Linked DNA regions of Homo sapiens. The protein of the gene in region 1 purifies or fractionates together with the protein of each later gene. This does not show direct contact. Each region holds a gene or a part of one and is shown in the gene's direction. Other genes may lie near its edges. The genes, in order: ZPBP2, PROS1, PALM, SMPDL3B, FSTL1 and LRP11.

What was found.
Region 2: the proteins of ZPBP2 (region 1) and PROS1 purify together in Homo sapiens (affinity purification with mass spectrometry; 3 studies listed by BioGRID and IntAct, with this or other methods). This does not show direct contact.
Region 3: the proteins of ZPBP2 (region 1) and PALM purify together in Homo sapiens (affinity purification with mass spectrometry; one large-scale study listed by BioGRID and IntAct). This does not show direct contact.
Region 4: the proteins of ZPBP2 (region 1) and SMPDL3B purify together in Homo sapiens (affinity purification with mass spectrometry; one large-scale study listed by BioGRID and IntAct). This does not show direct contact.
Region 5: the proteins of ZPBP2 (region 1) and FSTL1 purify together in Homo sapiens (affinity purification with mass spectrometry; one large-scale study listed by BioGRID and IntAct). This does not show direct contact.
Region 6: the proteins of ZPBP2 (region 1) and LRP11 purify together in Homo sapiens (affinity purification with mass spectrometry, with the first as the bait; one large-scale study listed by BioGRID). This does not show direct contact.

What each region holds. Positions count from the first base shown.
Region 1 is NC_000017.11:39,874,702-39,878,201, forward strand, and holds the end of ZPBP2 (zona pellucida-binding protein 2 isoform 2 precursor), read left to right. Parts: intron 1-552; coding exon 553-733; intron 734-1,980; coding exon 1,981-2,108; 3' UTR 2,109-3,195; downstream 3,196-3,500.
Region 2 is NC_000003.12:93,883,397-93,886,896, reverse strand, and holds part of PROS1 (vitamin K-dependent protein S isoform 2 preproprotein), read left to right. Parts: intron 1-393; coding exon 394-561; intron 562-2,000; coding exon 2,001-2,169; intron 2,170-3,500. UniProt on the Homo sapiens protein: Anticoagulant plasma protein; it is a cofactor to activated protein C in the degradation of coagulation factors Va and VIIIa. It helps to prevent coagulation and stimulating fibrinolysis.
Region 3 is NC_000019.10:715,435-718,934, forward strand, and holds part of PALM (paralemmin-1), read left to right. Parts: intron 1-3,500. UniProt on the Homo sapiens protein: Involved in plasma membrane dynamics and cell process formation. Isoform 1 and isoform 2 are necessary for axonal and dendritic filopodia induction, for dendritic spine maturation and synapse formation in a palmitoylation-dependent manner.
Region 4 is NC_000001.11:27,945,000-27,948,499, forward strand, and holds part of SMPDL3B (acid sphingomyelinase-like phosphodiesterase 3b isoform 1 precursor), read left to right. Parts: intron 1-232; coding exon 233-446; intron 447-3,500. UniProt on the Homo sapiens protein: Lipid-modulating phosphodiesterase. Active on the surface of macrophages and dendritic cells and strongly influences macrophage lipid composition and membrane fluidity. Acts as a negative regulator of Toll-like receptor signaling.
Region 5 is NC_000003.12:120,402,493-120,405,992, reverse strand, and holds part of FSTL1 (follistatin-related protein 1 precursor), read left to right. Parts: intron 1-1,021; coding exon 1,022-1,140; intron 1,141-2,638; coding exon 2,639-2,751; intron 2,752-3,074; coding exon 3,075-3,185; intron 3,186-3,500.
Region 6 is NC_000006.12:149,850,860-149,854,359, reverse strand, and holds part of LRP11 (low-density lipoprotein receptor-related protein 11 isoform 1 precursor), read left to right. Parts: intron 1-1,168; exon of another isoform or gene 1,169-1,199; coding exon 1,200-1,357; exon of another isoform or gene 1,358-1,376; intron 1,377-1,795; exon of another isoform or gene 1,796-1,946; intron 1,947-3,500.

The sequences.
Region 1 (3,500 bases):
GGATCACAGGCGTGAGCCACCACGCCCAGCCTAATCTTAATTTTAATTTTTATTTATTTATTTTTTCTGAGACGGGGTCTCGCTCTGTCGCCAGGCTGGAGTGCAGTGGCACGATCTCGGCTCACTGCAACCTCCGCCTCCGAGGTTCAAGCAATTCTCCTGCCTCAGCCTCCTGAGTAGCTGAGACTACAGGCACATGCCACCACACCTAGCTAATTTTTGTATTTTTAATAGAGATGGAGTTTTACCATGTTGGCCAGGATGGTCTCGAACTCTTGACCTCGCGATCTGCCCGCCTTGGCCTCCCAAAGTGCTGGGTTTACAGGCATGAGCCACCGCTCCCAGCCAATTTTTCTTAACCATTGCACATATTAATTGACAACAGTTGATAAGGTCAAAGCTAACTAATTTTGGTGTTAACACACACCTTTTCAGGAATTTATCTACGTTAAGTATGGCATGCTTACAGTACATTATTGCCTGTGATACTGGAGGATAAATTTGGTTCATGGTTTAGTAATTGTACCTTTCTCTGGTATTTTTCAACCTTAGGCAAGAGATCGAATAGAAGACTTTTTTCGGAGCCAAGCATATATTTTCTACCATAACTTTAATAAAACTCTACCAGCAATGCATTTTGTGGACCACAGTTTGCAAGTAGTACGTCTGGATAGCTGTCGACCAGGCTTTGGAAAAAATGAACGTCTACACAGTAATTGCGCTAGCTGTTGTGGTAACTATAAAATATAAATATCTAAACATTTAGGTTATAGAGTCAGAAGAATATATAAGTAATTCACTTGGCATAACTGAATAGAATCTTTACAGTGATTCTCTTACCAAAAAATATATATATATTTAGCTAAAAGGAAGTAAAAATTCAAAGCCCCAATTTTTTTTTTTTTTGTTTTTTTTGAGATAGAGTCTCACTCTTTCACCCATGCTGGAGTGCAGTGGCGTCATCTGAGCTCACCACAACCTTCGTCTCCAGGGTTCAAGTGATTCTTCTGCCTCAGCCTCCCCAGTAGCTACCACAGCTGGCTAATTTTTGTAAAAAGTAGAGACAGAGTTTCACCATGTTGGCCAGGCTGGTCTCGACTGAACTCCTGACCTCAAAGGATCCGTCTGCCTTGGCTTCCGAAAGTGCTGGGATTATAGGTGTGGGCTACCATGCTTGGCCCCTTTTTTTTTTTTTTTTTTTTTTTTTTTTTTTGAGATGGAGTCTGGCTCTGTTACCCAGGCTGCAGTGCAGTGTGCAGTGTGGCGCAGTCTCAGCTTATGGCAACTCTGCCTCCCAAGCTCAAACCATCCTTCAACCTCAGCCTCCTGAGTAGCCAGGATTACAGGTGTGCAATCTGTAATTTTTGTATTTTTACTGACTAATTTTTGTATTTTTAGTAGAGACAGAGTTTCGCCCTGTTGCCCAGACTGGTCTTGGAATTCCTGGGCTCAAGCAATCTGCCCGCCTTGGCCTCCCAAAGTGCTGGGATTACAGGCATGAGCCACTGCGCCCAGCCAAAGCCCAAATTTCTAAATATAGTTATTTTAATGTATATTAACTCTTCCTGATGTACTCTCTTGTATTATAAACATTTCTATAATGTTCTGTCTTAAGCTACTGTACAATGAAGGAAAACAGAATGGTCCTACCTGGAAAGCAGAGAACTAGGAAATAGGAACTAGAAAACTAGAAATAGGAACTCATAAATGGGGCACTGCAGAAGATACTGTAAAATGCTGATAGTAAAAGAAAAAATAGGATTCTCACTTTCTCCTATCTTTAAGATCATCAAATTATAAAGTTTGAAACTCACATAATCTTCCACAACTTAAATGGGCTGAACATTACCTGGTATAATATAGGTACTGAAATGGTATGATATTAAAGGCAGATTTATATTGTTGGTATAGAATACCTCCAAGTAGTAGAGGCATAAAATATCTCTAAATTATAATTACTCCCTGTGTTTTCCTCTGCAGTGGTTTGTAGTCCTGCGACTTTTAGTCCTGATGTTAATGTAACTTGTCAGACCTGCGTTTCCGTCCTTACCTATGGAGCTAAATCTTGCCCACAAACTTCAAACAAAAATCAGCAATATGAAGATTAGAGGTGAAAGCATTGTTACTTACTTGTGGAAGTCGGGGACATAAGATGATTTTCACATCCCAGAGCATCATAGATAGTTCCATTAAGTAAAATCAGTAAGACCAAACCACTGGAAAACATGCATTTTGGAAACTTTAAAATAAATGGTTAACATGGCATTTCTAAGAAGGCATTTAATCCAGTATCTCTAGTGTACAAAGGAAACTTGAAGTTTTAATGGATTATTTTTAATGAAATGTTTTATTGTTTACAAACGGTATGTTGCTGTGTACCTAAGAGTATAGTAAGGTCAAGAAGAGTATCAAAGTATAATAAAATAAAAATTGTATACTCTCCATATATTTATTTGTTTGGAATCACTCTTGTGTGATATAAAGGCGTGTATATTATCTTTGTATTAGAACCAAAAAAGTTATTTATTTTGGTCCCTATGATTTTATTTTTTAAGATAAATTAATATACTGTATTTTTTAAAGTATAGGTTTAGGTTTACAGAATAATAGAGCAGATAATATATAGAGTTCCATACACCCACTGCACCCCATACCCTCATTCCTCCTTACACAATTTCTCCTATTATTAAGATGGTGCATTAGTGTGGCACATTTGTTACAAATGATGAACCAATATTAATTTATTATTAATTATAGCCCATAGTTCACATTAAGATTCATTGTGTTGTAAGGTTATGTGGGTTTTGACAAATTCATAATGGCATGTGTGCACCATTGCAGTCTCATACAGAATAGTTTCACCACCCTCAAAATCCTGTGCTTCACTTATTTATCCCTCCCGCCGTGCCCTGGCAACCACTGATCTTTTTACTGTCTCTACAGTTTTGCCTTTTCCAAAATGTCATGTAGTTGGTTGGAGTTATGCAGTATGTAGACTTTTTAGACTGGCTTCTTTCACTTAGCAATATGCATTTAAGGTTCCTCCATGTCTTTTTGTGACTTGATAGCTCATTTTTTATTGCTGAATAATGTTCATTGTATGGATATAGCATAGTATGTTTATCCATTCGCCCATTAAAGGAAATCTTGATTGCTTCCAGTTTTCAGTGATTAAAAATAAAGCCGCTATAAACATTTGTGTGCAGGTTTTTGTATGAACATAAGTTTTCAACCCAATTGTGTAAATAACCTAGGAATATGACTGCCGGAGTGTGACTATGTGTAGTTTTATGAGAAACTGCCATACTGTCTCCCAAAGTGGCTTACCGTTTTGCATTCACCAGAAATGAAAAAGTATTCCTGTTATCCTTATCTTTCCCAGCATTTGGTATTGTTAGTTTTTTTTTATTTTGACCATTCTAATAGGTGTATGGTGGTATTTTATTGTTTTAATTTGCAATTCCCTAATGGCATCTGATGTTGAACATCTTTTCATATGG
Region 2 (3,500 bases), on another chromosome or scaffold:
TATTGATTCCATGTGCGTATTATCAGACAATTGCAAAATAAGGCCACTTAAATTTTTCCTAAGATAGAATGGCTCACTTAATTGTTAATTTTCTAGCAGCCTGGAATTGAAAGATATATAACTGGATGTTTAAGCTTAACAGAATAGTATTTTTTTTAACTTTAAAATATGGTATGCTTTTAATTTTTGATCGTGCTGCCACCCTAAATGCCTTTTTATCACATTTATCATAATTTGACATTCCAAATGAGTTGTAACAAATTAATAATTACATTAAAATGATTACTTTACAGAAGTATTTTATTGGAATAATAACATAAGTTTTAGATCCCAGTATTTCAAATGACATGTAGTAATACTTGGTTATTTGGTAATTTTTCTTTTTAATTGTAGGTGTCTGTGGAAGAATTAGAACATAGTATTAGCATTAAAATAGCTAAAGAAGCTGTGATGGATATAAATAAACCTGGACCCCTTTTTAAGCCGGAAAATGGATTGCTGGAAACCAAAGTATACTTTGCAGGATTCCCTCGGAAAGTGGAAAGTGAACTCATTAAACCGGTAATGATCCAAGCTTGTATCATTCATCATGGATGAGTTCCTTTTGTCTGTAATAGATTTGAATATGTGTGTTTCTGAGAATCAATAGAAGTTGTTTTGTTAAGCATACTAAGTGTGACAACTTGAAATGATCATGGAAAAATAACATTAGTAACCCTTGAAATTATATTAATGAAATAAAAAAATGACGTAGTGGTTTTGTGCCCATTTAAATCCCCAGCATAAATCATGAAGTGGATTTCTAAAATTCTCAAGTTAACACTTGAGAATGTTAACACTAATGTTAACATTAGTAATGTAATGTTCAGTGTTAACATCATGATAATCCATACTCAGTTGTTAAACATATAAATTCATATATTTAAGTCCAAAATTACACCATTTTGTAAAAGCCAGTCAAAGGACTTTCTCAAGTCTATTTTTAGGACTTAAATGCAAGAGCTAAAGAATAGCACATAAGGTGAAATTTATTGTTAAATATTTACTATCTTACATCCGTCTTTCATTCTCTGGAAATTCGTAGTTACTTTAACTTTTAAAAGATTTCCATTATATGATATTAAGCTTGAATTAATTAACCCATGTTGACATGAGTATACCTGTTGTTTGAAACTGAGAAATTAATACACTTTAAAAGTAAAATAAATTATTCAAAAAGTATCAATCATTTATGAAACGGTTATTACATGTCTTGAGCCTGGCAGGATACTTGATGGAGGCTAAAGAATGCAAACACTTTTGTGTCTGAAGAGACTTAGAGTCTGATTGGCAAGACAAACCCATATTATAAATGCCACTAAAGAAAAACAAGGCCAGGCGTGGTGGTTCACACCTGTAATCCCAGCAATTTGGGAGGCCGAGGCGGGTGGATCACCTGAGGTCAGGAGTTCAAGACCAGCCTGGCCAATGTAGCAAAACCCCATCTCTACTAAAAGTACAAAAATTAGCCAGGCGTGGTGGTGGGCACCTGTAATCCCAGCTACTCAGGAGGCTGAGGCAGGAGAATCGCTTGAACCAGGGAGGCAGAGGTTGCAGTGAGCCAAGATCCTGCCACTGCACTCCAGCAAGACTCCATCTCAATCAAACAAACAAAGAAGATAAACAAGACAACTTAGAGCCCAGGGCCACAGCTAGAAGCAAATATAGAACTTGAAAGCAGAAAAGTTACCACTGGATGATGTAGGAGAGGCAGGTGGGGCTTGAAGTGTTAAAAACCATTAAGATCCCACTGAGGGCTTGTGATAGTATGAGCTTGCTTGTACTGAAAAAGACTGTCCATCTGAAGAATACTTTGAAAAGAAAAACTTAAATAAAATTCAAAATATTTTCAACTATTATCAAAGAAAGGATTTTTTTTCTCTTAATGAAAACCTATACTCATAATCGAGCCACTGTTTAAGTTTAAAATGCACTCCTTGACTTGTATTTTAATTTGTTAGATTAACCCTCGTCTAGATGGATGTATACGAAGCTGGAATTTGATGAAGCAAGGAGCTTCTGGAATAAAGGAAATTATTCAAGAAAAACAAAATAAGCATTGCCTGGTTACTGTGGAGAAGGGCTCCTACTATCCTGGTTCTGGAATTGCTCAATTTCACATAGATTATAGTAAGTGATTTTCCATTTATCTCTATTTTCTCATTAATGAGTAAATTTATTCATTAACAAACAGTAATAATTTATTTGTGAAACATTATTGAGTATCTACTGTGTGCCCACTCTAGTCTTATGCTTATTCATACTATTATATACCTTTTACAAAAATTTTTCAGTGTATTGGGAAAAATATAAAGGCATTTGAATGTGCTTGTGTTGTTATTTCAGGTTTATCAGTACATAGCCTGATTCCTTATGGGTAAATTCAATTGACCTATTTTAAAGTTCACTGATTTCTCACTTGTATGGAGTCTATCAATGAATGCATCAGAAAGATTCATCTTCATTTCTAGCATTTCTATTTGATGCTTTCTTAAAATTTCTACCTCCCTGTTGAAATTCCCTATCTGTTCACACTTGTCTAGTTTATGTACTGAGTTTTCAATGTATTCATCATAATTATTTTAAATTCCCTGTCTCGTAGTTCCAACTGTGTCATATCTGAGTCTCGTCATTTTGTTTGCTTTGTCCCTTGACCAAGTGTTGTTTTTCTTGCATCTTTGTGTACCATGTAATTTTTGGTTTAGATTTGGGCATCTTACGTATAACAGTAGAGACTGAGATAAAGAATATTTGTGTCTGGAAATGAGCACATTTCTTTTGCTAGGCTCTTAGTAATGGGATTGAATCAATCTAGTGAAAAGTTGAGCTTCTTAAGTTTTGTTGGTGCCAGGATTACCCTTAATGCACCACAGGTTTCAGATCTTTTATTTTGTTTTGTTTTGTTTTTGAGATGGAGTCTCACTTTGTCACCCAGGCTGGGGTGCAGTGATGCAATCTTGGCTCACTGCAACCTCTGCCACCTGGATTCAAGTGATTCTTCTGCCTCAGCCTCCTGAGTAGCTAGAACTACAGGCGCCCGCCACCACGCCCGGCTAATTTTTGTATTTTTGTGTTTTTGGCCAGGCTGGTTTTGAACTGCTGATCTCATGATCCACCCCCTTGGCCTCCCAAAGTGCTGGGATTACAGGTGTGAGCCACCGCACCCAGCCTCAGATTTTCAAAATACTACCTTCTGCTTAGAATAAGGGAATGGTTTGGTAGCTAGTTTTTCTTTTTCTTTTCTTTCTTTTTTTCTTTTTTTTTGAGACTGAGTCTCACTCTGTCACCCAGGCTGGAGCTCAGTGCCACAATCTCGGCTCACCGCAACCTCCACCTTGCAGGTTCAAGTGATTCTCATGCCTCAGCCTCCTGAGTAGCTGGAATTACAAGGGTGCGCCACCATGCCCTGCTAATTTTTGTATTTTTGACGAGGTTTTGCCATGTTGGCCAGGCTGGTTTCA
Region 3 (3,500 bases), on another chromosome or scaffold:
GCATCTTCTCTGAGGTGTGAGAAAGGCTTCCTCATCCAGTCCATCATGAACCTTTTCTGAGAAGGATGTTTCAGGGTTCATCCAGGCAGGCAGAAGGATGCACCTTGTGGAAGGACTGGCATGTGCAAAGGGCTAGAGGTGGGAAAGCATTGGAAGAAGAGAATGCTCTTTGGTGTTTGTTCCTGCTAGGCCTTGAGTGCCAGGATGGGGAGTCATGGATAGTGTGTGAGCAGGGGAGGAGCAGTGGCTGACCTGGTCATCAAAAAAGGCGCTGGCAGCTGAGGAGTGAGCCCAGGGAGGAGCAAGTCATGGCCAAGCCTTGATTGTGGCTGCAGGGGCAGCATGCAGAGAAATGGCAGAGCCAGAGGGGGCAGGACCCCACGTCTAGGAGGGCAAACACAGGATTCCAGAACTGCGTGTGGTCAGTGATGCCCACAGGGACGGGGCTCCCTGGCTGGGGAGAAGTAGCCTGGTCCCTGGATACATGAGGGGGTGGAGGGCGTCCTCTAGGAGGATGGCTGCGTGGACGTCTTGGTGTCTGAGGAGTGTAAAATCAGGCCAGAGTGGCTGTCTCCCGCCCCAGGGTTTCAAGCAGAAATTCAGGGACAGTCAGAGCCAGTCACCAGGACAGAGCCTGGACTGGGTGGGAAGAGGGAAGGGGAGCTAGGCCTTGGGATGGGGAAGACTTAGATTAGGGCTGGGCATGGTGGCTCACGCCTGTAATCCCAGCACTTTGGGAGGCCGAGGCGGGCAGATCACCTGAGTTCAGGAGTTCGAGACCAGCCTGGTCAACATGGTGAAACCCCCGTCTCTACCAAAAATACAAAAATTAGCCAGGCATGGTGGCAGGTGCCTGTAATCCCAGCTACTCGGGAGGCTGAGGCAGGAGAATCGCTTGAACCCAGGAGGAGGTTGCAGTGAGCCGAGATTGCGCCACTGCCCTCCAGCCTGGGTGACAGAGCGAGACTCTTTCTCTCAAAAAAAAAAAAAAAGAAAGTTTAGATTAGGACCAGAGTGAGGCCAGCTGAGTGGGAGGCGCTGCATGGTCAACAGACTGGTGGTGGGACAGGGCCAGGCCTGGGAGCCCCTCCTGGGTGGGCAGAGGCTGTGGGCAATGGAGGCAGAGATGCGGGACCCTGAAGGCCGGGGAGGGACAGAGGCCCAGGGTTCTTCAGTAACCCCTGTCAGGGAGCGAGAAGCTGATGTCCTCATCAGTTTGTATTCAAACGCTTCCAGCCATGGAAAGTCTCAGGGCAGGGCCAGCAGGGGTTTCAGCACTCCATGGGGGTTGGGAAGGACCCCAGCCCCTGGCCTGGCTCTTGTTGAGAAGGCTGGCATTCCCATTACACATGCACGTATACACACACGTACACAGGTATGTATACACACGTCTGTATGTATATCATTCTTAACAGCTTCATTAAAATACATTTCACACGCTACACAGTCTGGCTGCTTAAAGTGTACAGCTCAGGCGTTTTTAGTACACTGACAGGGTGTACTTTTTTTTTTTTTGAGACAGAGTCTCTCTGTCACATAGGCTGGAGTGCAGTGACGTAATCCCGGCTCACTGCAACCTCCGCCTCCCGGGTTCAAGTGGTTCTCCTGCCTCAGCCTCCTGAGCAGCGGAGATTACAGGCACGTGCCACCACGCCCGGCTAATTTTTGTGTTTTTAGTAGAGACGGGGTTTCACCATATTGACCAGGATGGTCTCAATCTCTTGACCTTGTGATCCACCTGCCTTGGCCTCCCAAAGTGCTGGGATTACAGGTGTGAGCCACCGCGCCCAGCAGAGTTGTGTATCTTTCACCACAATTGTAGAACATTTTCATCACCCCCAAAACAAGCCCTGTCCCCATTAGGCATCCCCTCCCGTCCCCCTCCCCCCAGCCCTCGGGGAGCCAGTCCCCTTCCTGTCTCTGGATCGGCAGGTCCTGGACATTTCGTAGACATGGGATCACACGCTGCGTGGCCTTCTGTGTCTGGCGTCTCTCACTGAGCGTGATGTCCTCAAGGTGCATCCGCGCCGTGGCCTGGGTCAGAGCCTCGCTCCTGTTCACGGCTGAGTCATGTCCCAGTGCGTGGACGGCCACATTGCGTTTACCCACACATCTGTGGATGGACACCCGGGTTGGTTTATCTGTGAATCTGTAGTTACCCCCCGAGATGGTTGGAGCTTGTGCTCTGTTCACACTGAGGAGTCCGGGTCCTACTTTACATAAGTGTAAGTCGTGACAGTGAGTTTCTTTAAAAAGAAGAGGCAGTGATCAGATGACAGGTGGCCCTGGGAGTGGCGGGAGTGTGAGAAGAGGGGGCCGGGATTGGGGGGACCTCTGGGTGGGGGCTTCCTCTGAAGATGGAAAGACCCTAATCGACTCCCTGGGGCAGCAAGCATTTATTGAGCACCTGCTGTATGCCTGGTGCCAGGGACATGGCAGGGACAAAAATGACACAGTTGCTGTCCTAGTGGGAAGACAAGATCACGCCTGTAATCCCAGCACTTTGGGAGGCTGAGGCGGGCGAACCACCTGAGGTCAGGAGTTCGAGACCAGCCTGGCCAACATGGTGAAACCCCGTCTCTACTAAAAATACGAAAATTAGCCGGGCGTGGTGGCATGTGCCTGTAATCCCAGCTACTCAGGAGGCTGAGGCAGGAGAATCACTTGAACCCAGGAGGCGGAGGTTGCAGCGAGCCGAGATCGCGCCACCGCACTCCAGCCTGGGCAACAGAGGGAGACTCCATCTCAAAAAAAAAGAAAAGAAAAAGATAAGTAAAGTGATCCGGGTGGTGACAGCTGCAGGGGTGCCTGGGGCTGAAAATTAGGACAGAAGAGGCCTAAATGAGGAGGTGACGTCTGCAGAAAGGCCTTGGGCCTGAGGCCCGGGGAGGTCTGGGTGACCGTGCACCAGGCAGCAATGCAGCCAGCACAATGGCCCTGCAGTGGGAGCTCTGTGGGACGTCTCAGGAGTGTGGCTGGAGTGCAGTCGCGTGGGGAGGGACCATGGGGCCTCTGCAGCAGGGTTTGCCCTGAGACCCTGCTGAAAGCCAGGGAAGGCCCCGTTCACGCCTCACTGCCCCGTCTTCCCCTGAGGGCCCGGGCAGGGTCCCTTCCCACCCCAGGTTAATAGGCAACAGGTTTGCTTCTCTGCATCTGTGGCCTGCTTTGACCTCCGTCTTCTCCTCTCCCCCGGGGTGATGCCTCTCTGCCGTAACCCGTTTAGGGTTCTCGGTGCCCCAGAGACTGGGATGGCCCTGGGGGCCTCCGTGCTGCATCCTGGGAGGGCTGGGAGGAGGTTCCTTCCTGGAAGGCTGCCTGGAGGAGGTGGCTGTGCTTGAGCTGATCTTGGCGGTGGAGAAGGGAAAGGGGAAGCTGGGAGCTGATGAAGGGTGAGGGGCTGACATTGGGGCTTGGACTCCGGGGCTTGGAGCAGGGCAGGGCGGTGGAGGAAGCAGGGCCGGGGGTGCCAGCGCTCAGGGGAGACACAGGCTCTGAGGACC
Region 4 (3,500 bases), on another chromosome or scaffold:
CCTTGCCAAAGGTCAGCGCTCAGGGATGGAGCTGAGCCTGTTCTGTGCTCTGCTCAATGTGTCCCTGGGCAGAGCCAGGCCTGTGGGCCTTTTCTCTGAACCCGGGGTGCTCAGAGAAGACTTCCATTTGCCTGTGTAACGCCCCTGCCCCAGCCCAGGGCTCCCCTGGACTTCCTTGCTTCCAGGCTGAGAGAGAGACCAGCTTTGAAGGAGGATGTTTTTTCCCCTGCAGGGAAGTTCTGGCACATCGCTGACCTGCACCTTGACCCTGACTACAAGGTATCCAAAGACCCCTTCCAGGTGTGCCCATCAGCTGGATCCCAGCCAGTGCCCGACGCAGGCCCCTGGGGTGACTACCTCTGTGATTCTCCCTGGGCCCTCATCAACTCCTCCATCTATGCCATGAAGGAGATTGAGCCAGAGCCAGACTTCATTCTCTGGACTGGGTGAGTACAGTTGAGGTGGCAGCTACCCTTTGCCAGGCATCTGCTATGTGCTACATACCAGTCTGGCCCTTTGCCCACATTATCTCCCTTAATCCTCACATCAGTCTCACGTGAGGCTGAGGAACCTAAAGCTCAAAGGAATTTTGTAACTTGCCCGGGGATTCCTGAGTCCAACTGATTCCACAGTCTGTGTCCTCGACCTCCATGTCTCCTGGCTGTGGCAGAACGCAGCTCTCAATCAGGCTTTTGGACGTGGTCCTGGCATGCCTGGGCACCCGGAGAGTGTCCAGGTTTTAAGCTATGGGTGGACACTGGAGCCATTTCCCCTGGGGCTTAGGGACTCTAAGTCTGAGAGGTCCAAGTGCAGGGAGGGAAGAAGTTATGAGGGCTGAAGGTGGCCCAGCCTGGGGTCCTAGTGTCCTGGCCAGCTGCTGGCCACCCCTGGGCTGCCCAGTGGTCCTGGATTTTCTCACCAGTCAGAGCTCTGCTCTACAGAGTGACAGCTTGAGGGCCGATCCCACTCAGCCGCAGAGACCCAGTTTCTGCTTCCTGTCCAAGGTTGCTGCTCTAATTCCTTCAACTTTCCTGGGAACTTGCCTCCTTATCATTCAAGATTCCCCCATTCCGGCTGGGTATAGTGGCTCATGCTTGTAATTCCAGCACTTTGGGAGGCCGAGGCAGTGGATCACCTGAGGTCAGGAGTTTGAGACCATCCTGGCCAACATGGTGAAACCCCGTCTCTACTAAAAATACAAAAATTAGCCTGGCGTGGTAGTGCACGCCTGTGGTTCCAGCTACTCGGGAGGCTGAGGCAGGAGAATCGCTTGCATTTGGGAGGTAGAGGTTGCAGTGAGCCAAGATCACACCACTACACTCCCAGCCTGAGTGACACAGCAAGACTCTGTCTCAAAAAAAAAAAAGAAAGAAAAAGAAAAAAAGATACCCCCATCTCCTCGCTTGCTCCCTCACTTGGCAGGGCAACAAGTCGTGCTCAGTTGTGGGGTAGATGCTAGGGATCTGAGATGATGGACACCCACACTTGGCTCCAAGGAGCTCACGTTCTTGTGGGCAATGCAGACAAACCCATTGACCCTACCCTTACATCCAAGCAAGGAGAGAGAGTCACCTGGGGGGATGTGGGAACTTCACAGGGCACATGATCCCATCTGGCAGGATTAGGGGAAGGACATCCTGCAGGAGGTGGTGGAGCAGGGGAGCTCTCGAGGAAGGCTGGAAGGAATTCTGACTTTGCGCTCCCTCTACCAGCCTCAGTGGACACTTCTATAAGGCAGGGTGAAACCCATGATGCCCCTAGCTGTGATGTGGTTTGTGGGTGTGACCAGGAAGGACCCTCAGATGAACCTGCCAGGCTGGACACATAAGAAGACATGTGACATTGTCTCAGGAGGGGCCTGGACAGCTCTGGCTTCCTTGGGCTCAGGAATCAATCTAAGAAGAGAGTGAGATTTGGTCCATGACCTTGGGCCTGCTCCCTTGAGGGGAGCTTCTGATTTCTCCGAGAAGGGAGAGCATGTGTAGCATTCAGACAGATGGGATCCCTCAGGAAATTCATGATCCTTTAACAGATGCACATTTTTTTTTTTTTTTGAGATGGAGTTTCGCTCTTTTTGCCCAGGCTGGAGTGCAATGGCGTGATCTTGGCTCACCACAATCTCCGCCTCCTGGGTTCAAGCGATTCTCCTGCCTCAGCCTCCCGAGTAGCTGGGATTACAGGCATGCGCCACCACGCCCGGCTAATTTTGTATTTTTATTAGAGACAAGGTTTCTCCATGTTGGTGAGAGTGGTCTCAAACTCCCGACCTCAGGTGATCTGCCCGCCTCAGCCTCCCAAAGTGCTGGGATTGCAGGCGTGAGCCACTGCACCCGGCCACAGTTGCACCTTTTTTTCCTGGGAAATCTCTGAGACCTTGAAGAGGTACACAGCATCAGATGAGAAGATCTCTAGGACCCTTTACAATTCTTCAATTATAATAAAATTTGACTTCTAAGAGAGCTGCAGTCCCTTTGAGGATGGCCATTAGAAATTAGGTATGTTTTACTACTCAGGAGGCTGAGGCAGGAGAATCGCTTGAACCTGGGAGACGGAGGTTGCAGTGAGCCGAAATTGCGCCACTGCACTCCAGCCTGGGTGACAGAGCGAGACTCCATCTCAAAAAAAAAAAAAAAAAGAAATTAGGTGTTTTTTTGTTTTTTTTTTTTAAGATGGAGTCTCGCTCTGTCGCCCAGGCTGGAGTGCAGTGGTGCGATCTCGGCTCACTGGTGCCCCCTACCACGCCTGGCTAATTTTTGTATTTTTAGTAGAGACAGGGTTTCACCATATTGGCCTGGCTGGTCTCGAACTCCTGACCTTATGATCCGCCTGCCTCGGCCTCCCCAAGTGCTGGGATTACAGGCGTGAGTCACCGCCCCCGGCCTAGGTGTGTTTTTTATCAGACAGAATTAGATTCTCTAACCTAGAAATTAAAAATATGAAATTTTGTCCCTGTGTCTTTGGGTTTCCGGCCTGTCCCCAGGGAGTTTTCAGGGCAAAACAGCCCCTCTTGCTGCCCTAATGTGGGTATCAGAGACACTATAGGATGCAGTGGCTGTGAGCATAGACTCTGGGGCCAGGCTGACTGGGCTCAAATCTTGGCCCCACCACTTTCTAGTGGTGTACACTTAGGTACAATTTTTCCCCCGTGTCTCTGGTGCTTGATTTAGGATAGGCAAAATTCTTAACTTTTCTGTGTCTTGGTTTCTTTATCTGTCAAACGGGCCTAAACTAATAATAGAATTTACATTGCAGTGTTATAATGGGGAAAAAATTAGTGGCTGTGGCAACAACACACAGAAAGTGCCTGGCAGAAAGTCAGCCGGTGTGAGCTTCTAGCAGCAGTATTAATACTATTATGCTAATTAGTTTCCCTGGGGGAATACCTGGGCAGCAGAGGCCCCAGGATTTTGACTGTCCGGACGTCTCCCCATCCCTACACTCCACCTGCCACCATTCTCCTCCCCTTGCCAAGCATTTCTAAGGTGGACCCAAGAATTTTG
Region 5 (3,500 bases), on another chromosome or scaffold:
ACCATCTGGGGAGCCATCTTGAAAGTAACATGGGGAAGCTGATCCTTTCCCAGGGCAGCAGCATGAGGGAGCCTAGGGAAAGGATTTGGGAGGAAGGGGGAAAATGTTATTGAAATTTGTTAGGAGAGCAGCCATATGCAACTTGGAATTTGATCAGTCTTGATTTGACACCCTCCTCCTGCAGCTAGTGCCTGGGTGTCTTGAATGGTCCCAGATGGCTGAGGTCTCAGTTTAGCATCTTGCCATAGAGAACAGTGTGTGAGCTTACTGCACTCCTCACTTTGTGCTTGTGGGATGCCAGCTGGGTCATGAGGGCAGCCTGAGCTGGATGATCTGAGGACCTGTGCACACATCTGCAGTGGGGCCCACAGGGCAGAGGAGCGGGAACTTTGCATGATGACCCCTGTCTGTAGCTTATTGCTTTGAGGCCTTTGCCTGAGTTCTCACTGATGTGATCAGTTACGGGCACCAAAGTGAAAGTTAAGCACTGAGAACAGGACAAGGAGGCTGGAATCAAGCAACAAGATTTGGAATCCTATAATTCCAAAGTGAGCTCAGAGGGTCATCTGCATTGCTGCTGTTCCTGAGCAGCTCATTAGAAACATATTCTGGGACCTGCTACAGAGATTCTGATTCACAGCGTGCAACTTTAAACTCTTGTTACATGTTCATCAGGGCTTGAGAACATGATGTGCAGGTTGGTCTGAACCCAAAGGTATAGTCAAAAGTGTCTACAGGGCAGTGTCAGAGATGGGGCCACACAGCATGCTTAGGGACCCCAGAGGCCTCAGTTCAGGTTGCCTCCTCTGCCCAGGCACTTTTCCTCTCTCATTGTGGGCACAGGTACCTTCTCTGCATGTCCCAGGGATTAGAGCATTTGTTGCCAAGGCCCTCTGAGGTCAGGGCAGGGTTGGAATGTATCAAGAACAAGATGAATCAGAGGCAGGTCAGCTGAGTGGAGTAATGATGGAACAGGGGTTCTGCAAAACATCCCTGAACGATCTTGTCATGCCCTTTCTAGAACTTTGATAATGGTGATTCTCGCCTGGACTCCAGTGAATTCCTGAAGTTTGTGGAACAGAATGAAACTGCCATCAATATTACAACGTATCCAGACCAGGAGAACAACAAGTTGCTTAGGTGAGAGGAACCGAGAGGTCAGAGAATGATCCACAAGGGAAGACTAACTGAGAGAGGGGACTTAAACCCTTTCCCACCTGCAAAAGAGCCACCAGTGAGAGAATGTCACGTAAAAAGCAAAATGGGAATTCTGTCCTGTTCTATTCTATGAAAGTATGAATTAATATATTGAGTACCACTGATATCTAATCAAATAGTTATTGTTTTTGGTCAGAACTTGCAAGGACTAGAAGAATATAATTTTAAAATAAATTGCCAAGGGCACGTCAGAGCAAGTTATTTCTGAATGTTGTGGGTGATGTTTTACTGATTAATTTTCTGAAGGAATTACAGTAATGTATTATTTAACTATAGGTCTAAAATAGCTTTGTTCTGATTTTTAGATAATTAGTGCTATTTCATGTCAATTGCCCTAACTGTTACAGATATATGCCCGTCTACTTTTATGGCATTATTCCAGAATCAATATTAATAAAAACTAATCGCTAAGAAACTTTTGATGTGGTTTCAGCACATCGGTAAGAATTAAAAATAGGAAAAGCATGTCTTTTTTTCAAAAGAAGTGCATTGCACAGTTTCTAGAAGGATTCTTCTTTAATAATAGTCTATGACCTTAAAGTATAGGTTCTGTAAATCCTTCATATTTTGATAATCTGAAATTATATGTTTTATAATTTCAACGTTTGAGCCTCATGATATCCCAGTGAAGGAGGGCTTCTTGTCCTCCTTTTACGGATGGGAAGACAGGCTCAGAAAAGTTGAATAACTAACTCAAGTCCATTTGAGTAGTAAGTGATTGAGCCAGGGCTCAAATACAGCCCAAGAAAGAAGTGATGGAGCTGAGTTTTTTTTTGTTTGTTTTGTTTTTTGTTTTTTTTTGTTTTTGTTTTTGTTTTGTTTTGTTTTTGTTTTTTTTTTTTTTTTTTTTTTTTGAGACGGAGTCTCGCTCTGTCGCCCAGGCTGGAGTGCAGTGGCGGGATCTCGGCTCACTGCAAGCTGATGGAGCTGAGTTCTAAAAGCTTTTCTGAAAATCTCTTTCTAGAAGGATGATAATGGTGATTCTTGCTTGAACTTCATATTCTTTCAAATCCTATATTCCTTTCATGTCATCTGTCATATCTCTTCTGTTTTGATTTTCCTAGTTTGGTTGACTTGACGTGTATATACCATGGGGAAAAGCAATTGCTAGTGGAAGGTATGCAGGCAGTGAAAACATTAGACAAAACCATTCACGAAACTTTAGTCATCTTAAGGGGGGGAACATTTGGACAGCCTGGGTGATCTGACATTCATATAACAAACTAAAGGTTAGATGCCTGCATTGGTCAGGATGGATAATAGTTGTGTTGGGTCAGTGTAGAGAGAGGCTGTTTTAGTTAGCAGTCATCTTCTTGGCCTCCTGTGGAGGCCCTGGGTGTATGTGGTCCTGATGCTTACTTCCTTTCTTCTGAGCGAAGCTGAGGTCTTGCTAACACATTTCTCCTGTGTTTTGTTTCAGGGGACTCTGTGTTGATGCTCTCATTGAACTGTCTGATGAAAATGCTGATTGGAAACTCAGCTTCCAAGAGTTTCTCAAGTGCCTCAACCCATCTTTCAACCCTCCTGAGAAGAGTATGCCTAACCTAAGAAATAGAGAGCTGTAGTGAATGGAGGCATTTTGTAGGAGCCAAGATAGAGAGGATTGGTGGAACTCTCCAGAGCTAGCTGAGAAAATCCCCTTCCATGATTCTAAACTGGGCCCCAGCCCATTCTCCCCATGGTGAAGTTAGGGCCCCACATTCTTTAGGTTGATGGTAGTGTTTGCTCAGATATAGTGCTTCTGAGGGACAGGCAGGTCTTGTCTGGGAAAAAAGGGTAAGGTGCACAGACTGTAGCAAAGATGCCCTGTTCCACCCTCACAGCTAAACTGTTGCCCCGTATTTCTGGCCCAACAGAGTGTGCCCTGGAGGATGAAACGTATGCAGATGGAGCTGAGACCGAGGTGGACTGTAACCGCTGTGTCTGTGCCTGTGGAAATTGGGTCTGTACAGCCATGACCTGTGACGGTGAGCTGTGCTTCAAGCAGAAAGAAAAAACAGCAAGGAGAGAGCTTCATGAAATCAGCATGAGAGAAGTTGGGGTGGGGATGATGGAGAAGAGGGCGGTGGCTGGGAGCAAGGAACCCAGGCAGACCCACACCTGTAAGGTTGGAGCCCCAAGTGGGGAGCTTTGAGGGCAGAACATTTATCCCATAGGCATTCAGTTTGAAAATCACTCCAGAGGCTTGGAATAAGAGAGGACCAAGACCCTGGGCAAAAGTAAATGATAATGGAATAGTAACATTATGGAAATAGTAACAGTGAAAGTAGTAATAATGGAAT
Region 6 (3,500 bases), on another chromosome or scaffold:
TGAGGTGGGAGGATCACTTGAGGTCAGGAGTTCAAGACCAGCCTGGGCAACTCTCACTACAAAAGAGTGAAAATAGGTGGGAAGGTTAGCACACACCTGCAGTCCTAACTACTCGGGAGGCTAAGGCAGGAGGATCACTTGAGCCCAGGAGTTGGAGGCTACAGTGAGTGAGCTATGATCGTGCACCAGCCTGGGTGATAGAGACCCTGTCTCAAAAGCAAAACAAAACAAAAACAAAGGTAAATACAGATTTATTTTGCTGTTGTAGTCATCTGAGCCTGCTGGCTTCTATTATAAAAATTAGTTATTAGAAACGGTGAACGTCTTCAATTTTCCTAGATGAAAAATTGGATTCCAGAGAATTTACATGCAGGCTTTATTTTGTATGGCTCTAAAAATTTGCCTTAACTTTTCAAACTTAATATATTTCCCATTCATTGAATACTTTATATCACTCCTATTTTTAAAACTTGAGGATAAGAAAAAAAGAAAATCCATATTAGAGGTGAATTTGGTGTTTTTCAGGTTTGTTTTAATAATCTTTTCAAGGCCAGGCGCAGTGGCTCACGCTGCTAATCCCAGCACTTTGAGAGGCCGAGGCAGATGGATCACCTGAGGCCAGGAGTTCGAGACCAGCCTGGCCAACATGGCAAAACCCTGTGTCTACTAAAAATACAAAAAACAATTAGCAGGATGTGGTGGCACACACATGTAATCCCAGCTACTCGGGCGGTTGAGGCAGAAGAACCGCTTGAACCCGGGAGGGAGAGGCTGCAGTGAGCCGAGGCTGCACCATTGCACTCCAGCCTGGGTGACAAGAGCAAAACTCCATCTCAAAATAATAATAATCTTTTAAAATAAATTTATTTAACAGTATTTTGAACTTAAGTGATTTTAAAATTAAGTGAAAAATCCACTCTAGAAAATAAAACTGCTTCTCCATATTTACACATTGGTGGGACCTCGTATGCTGCCTTGTACCCAAAATCGCTACCAGCCAACACTCCACACAGCCTCTTCTGCGCATATTATAGCTAAATTCCACGATCATAAAATAAATAGAAAAATAATTTCCATTTAATATGGATTCTCTTAGCAGTTATTTGCCGAATCATATCTATTCAGCAAACAAGATACCTCTCCATAAATTAGAAAAAATAAGAAATCATCTTTTATGAATTATTTATTTTCTTTCTCAGAAAAGGATGCGCCTCCACTTAGCAAGGCTGGGCAGGATGTGGTTCTGCATCTGCCCACAGACGGGGTGGTTCTAGACGGCCGCGAGAGCACAGATGACCACGCCATCGTCCAGTATGAGTGGGCACTGCTGCAGGGGGACCCGTCAGTGGACATGAAGGTAACGCATGTTGTCACTGCTAACAAAAACGAGTATTTCAGTGAAGTGGTCTTTTGTAATGTCCTGCCACTTCATGCTCCCTAAATGTCTGTACGCTAGCAGAAGGCATAAAATGGAGACTGTATAAAACTGATTATGCCAAAATGGTTTATTATCTCAATGTGCTTTTCTGCTGAGAGTGAGCAGCAATCTCGATCATTTGTCTTGGAGCCTACCCTCCTTCTAGCTGCTGTTTGTGACTTGTCTAGAGGACAAAGACACTTCAAGGAAGAAGGCTCATGCTTTGTTTTAATGACTCAGATTACTTTTTTAAAGTTCTATTTCTTTTTCTGAGCTCAAGATCCAGGTAGAAAATTTGAAACTACAAAGGAGTCTAAAGAGGACAATAACAATAGGATGAACTTATCCTTCACATGAGCCGGAAAGTAGACAGCTTACCTGGCAGCTAGGTCTGCTGGGGCACACCGAGCCTGTGAGGGAGGGAGGCCAGCATGCGGTGCTCCTGCCCGGGGCTCCTGCCCGGGGCTCCTGGGATAGCCGCCGATGGAAATCAGCCATGTGGCTGGTGGCTGCCTATGCTCAGGAAGTCTTGGGTGGTGAGACAAGTGGCTTTTTATTCACCCTCTCAGGGTGGATTCCTGGCTTAGGCAAATAAGCACTTCCTGGCTTAGGCAGATAAACTGCATCCAAACCACTTCAGTTAGAGGAAGTGGAGAAAGAGGGTGAGGTAAGGAGGCACTGATTTGTACTCTACTGGAACCAAAACAAAAACAAATCTGGAAGTCCCTCATCACTGGTTTAAGTAAGAGTGATTTTACTCCCTGATTATATTGCATTAGAATTGGACTCACCCTCGTCCAGTATGGTTTGCCTTTGTCCCCACCCAAAAATCTCATCTTGAATTGTAATCCCCATAATCTCCACGTGTCAAGGGAGAGACCAGGTGGAGGTTACTGAATTATGGAGGCAGTCACCCCCATGCTATTCTCATGATAGTGAGTGAGTTCTCGCAAGATCTGCTGGTTTTATAAGTATTTGGTTGTTTCTCCTGCCACCTTGTGAAGAAGGTGCCTTGCTTCCCCTTTGCCTTCTGCGGTGATTATACTAGTAAGTTTCCTGAGGCCTCCCCAGCCATGTGGAACTATGAGTCAATTAAACCTCTTTCCTTTGTAAATTACCCAGTTTCGGGCAGTTCTTTGTAGCAGTGTGAGAATGGACTAATACACCCAGCATCCTTCCCAGCCTCTCCTCCAAACAAGAGTGCCTTCCACAACACCCCTTCCAAGGCTCATCTGCCATCTGTCTGACTTTTCCAAGGGCAGAAGCTCACTACTTCACATCATGTCCATGACATTACTCATCACTGTGTTGGGCAAGCAGGCTACGCCTCCCCTTACTTCTGTGCATTGGTGTTGGGTCTTCCCTTTGGAAAAACACTGAACTCATCTTTTTATCCTGTGTAAAAGCTTTGGAAGTCTTTGAAAAAAAGAAAGAAAGAAAGAAAGAACATCACCAATTGGTATGCTGTTCTCAGAACTCAGCACCCCACAGTTTGTCAGATGTTCCTCATATGAATTGATTTTTCAGGCCCGCCACTATCCTGCCTTGTCTGGATTTTCTCATATTAATCCATACCCTTCTTAACATCTAATACCCCTAATTGAACCCCATATTTAAGCTTTGGTTTTCTGACTCATTCATTACCTACTGTGATCCAGATATTGCCTCTCCTTCTATTAATGAGCTTCGTTACATGAACTGTGTCAGTAGCTGCATCACACAGTGGGTTCGTGCTGCATTTTTCTTGCCTTCAAGAGGAAACTCTGAACCAGTTCCCAATCGTGTATAACAGTGACGGCAGGTAGACCTCAAGTTATGAAGCCATCATCTAAATGACAGGGCCTGTACTAGGGGAAACATCTGTTACCAATTTGTGACTGTCTTAGAATGATATACATTCATGAATGTCACCCAAAGTTAACACTCATCCTGCTGAGACTTCATCATAATCAAAGCCCCCACGGATTGAGCACCCACTGAGTGCCAGGCAGCTTAGAGAGATCTGTAATCCACTGGACACCCTCACTTGTAGGCACATCCCCATTTGGTGGATGAAGACTGTCAGGAAACATTGTGGAAGACT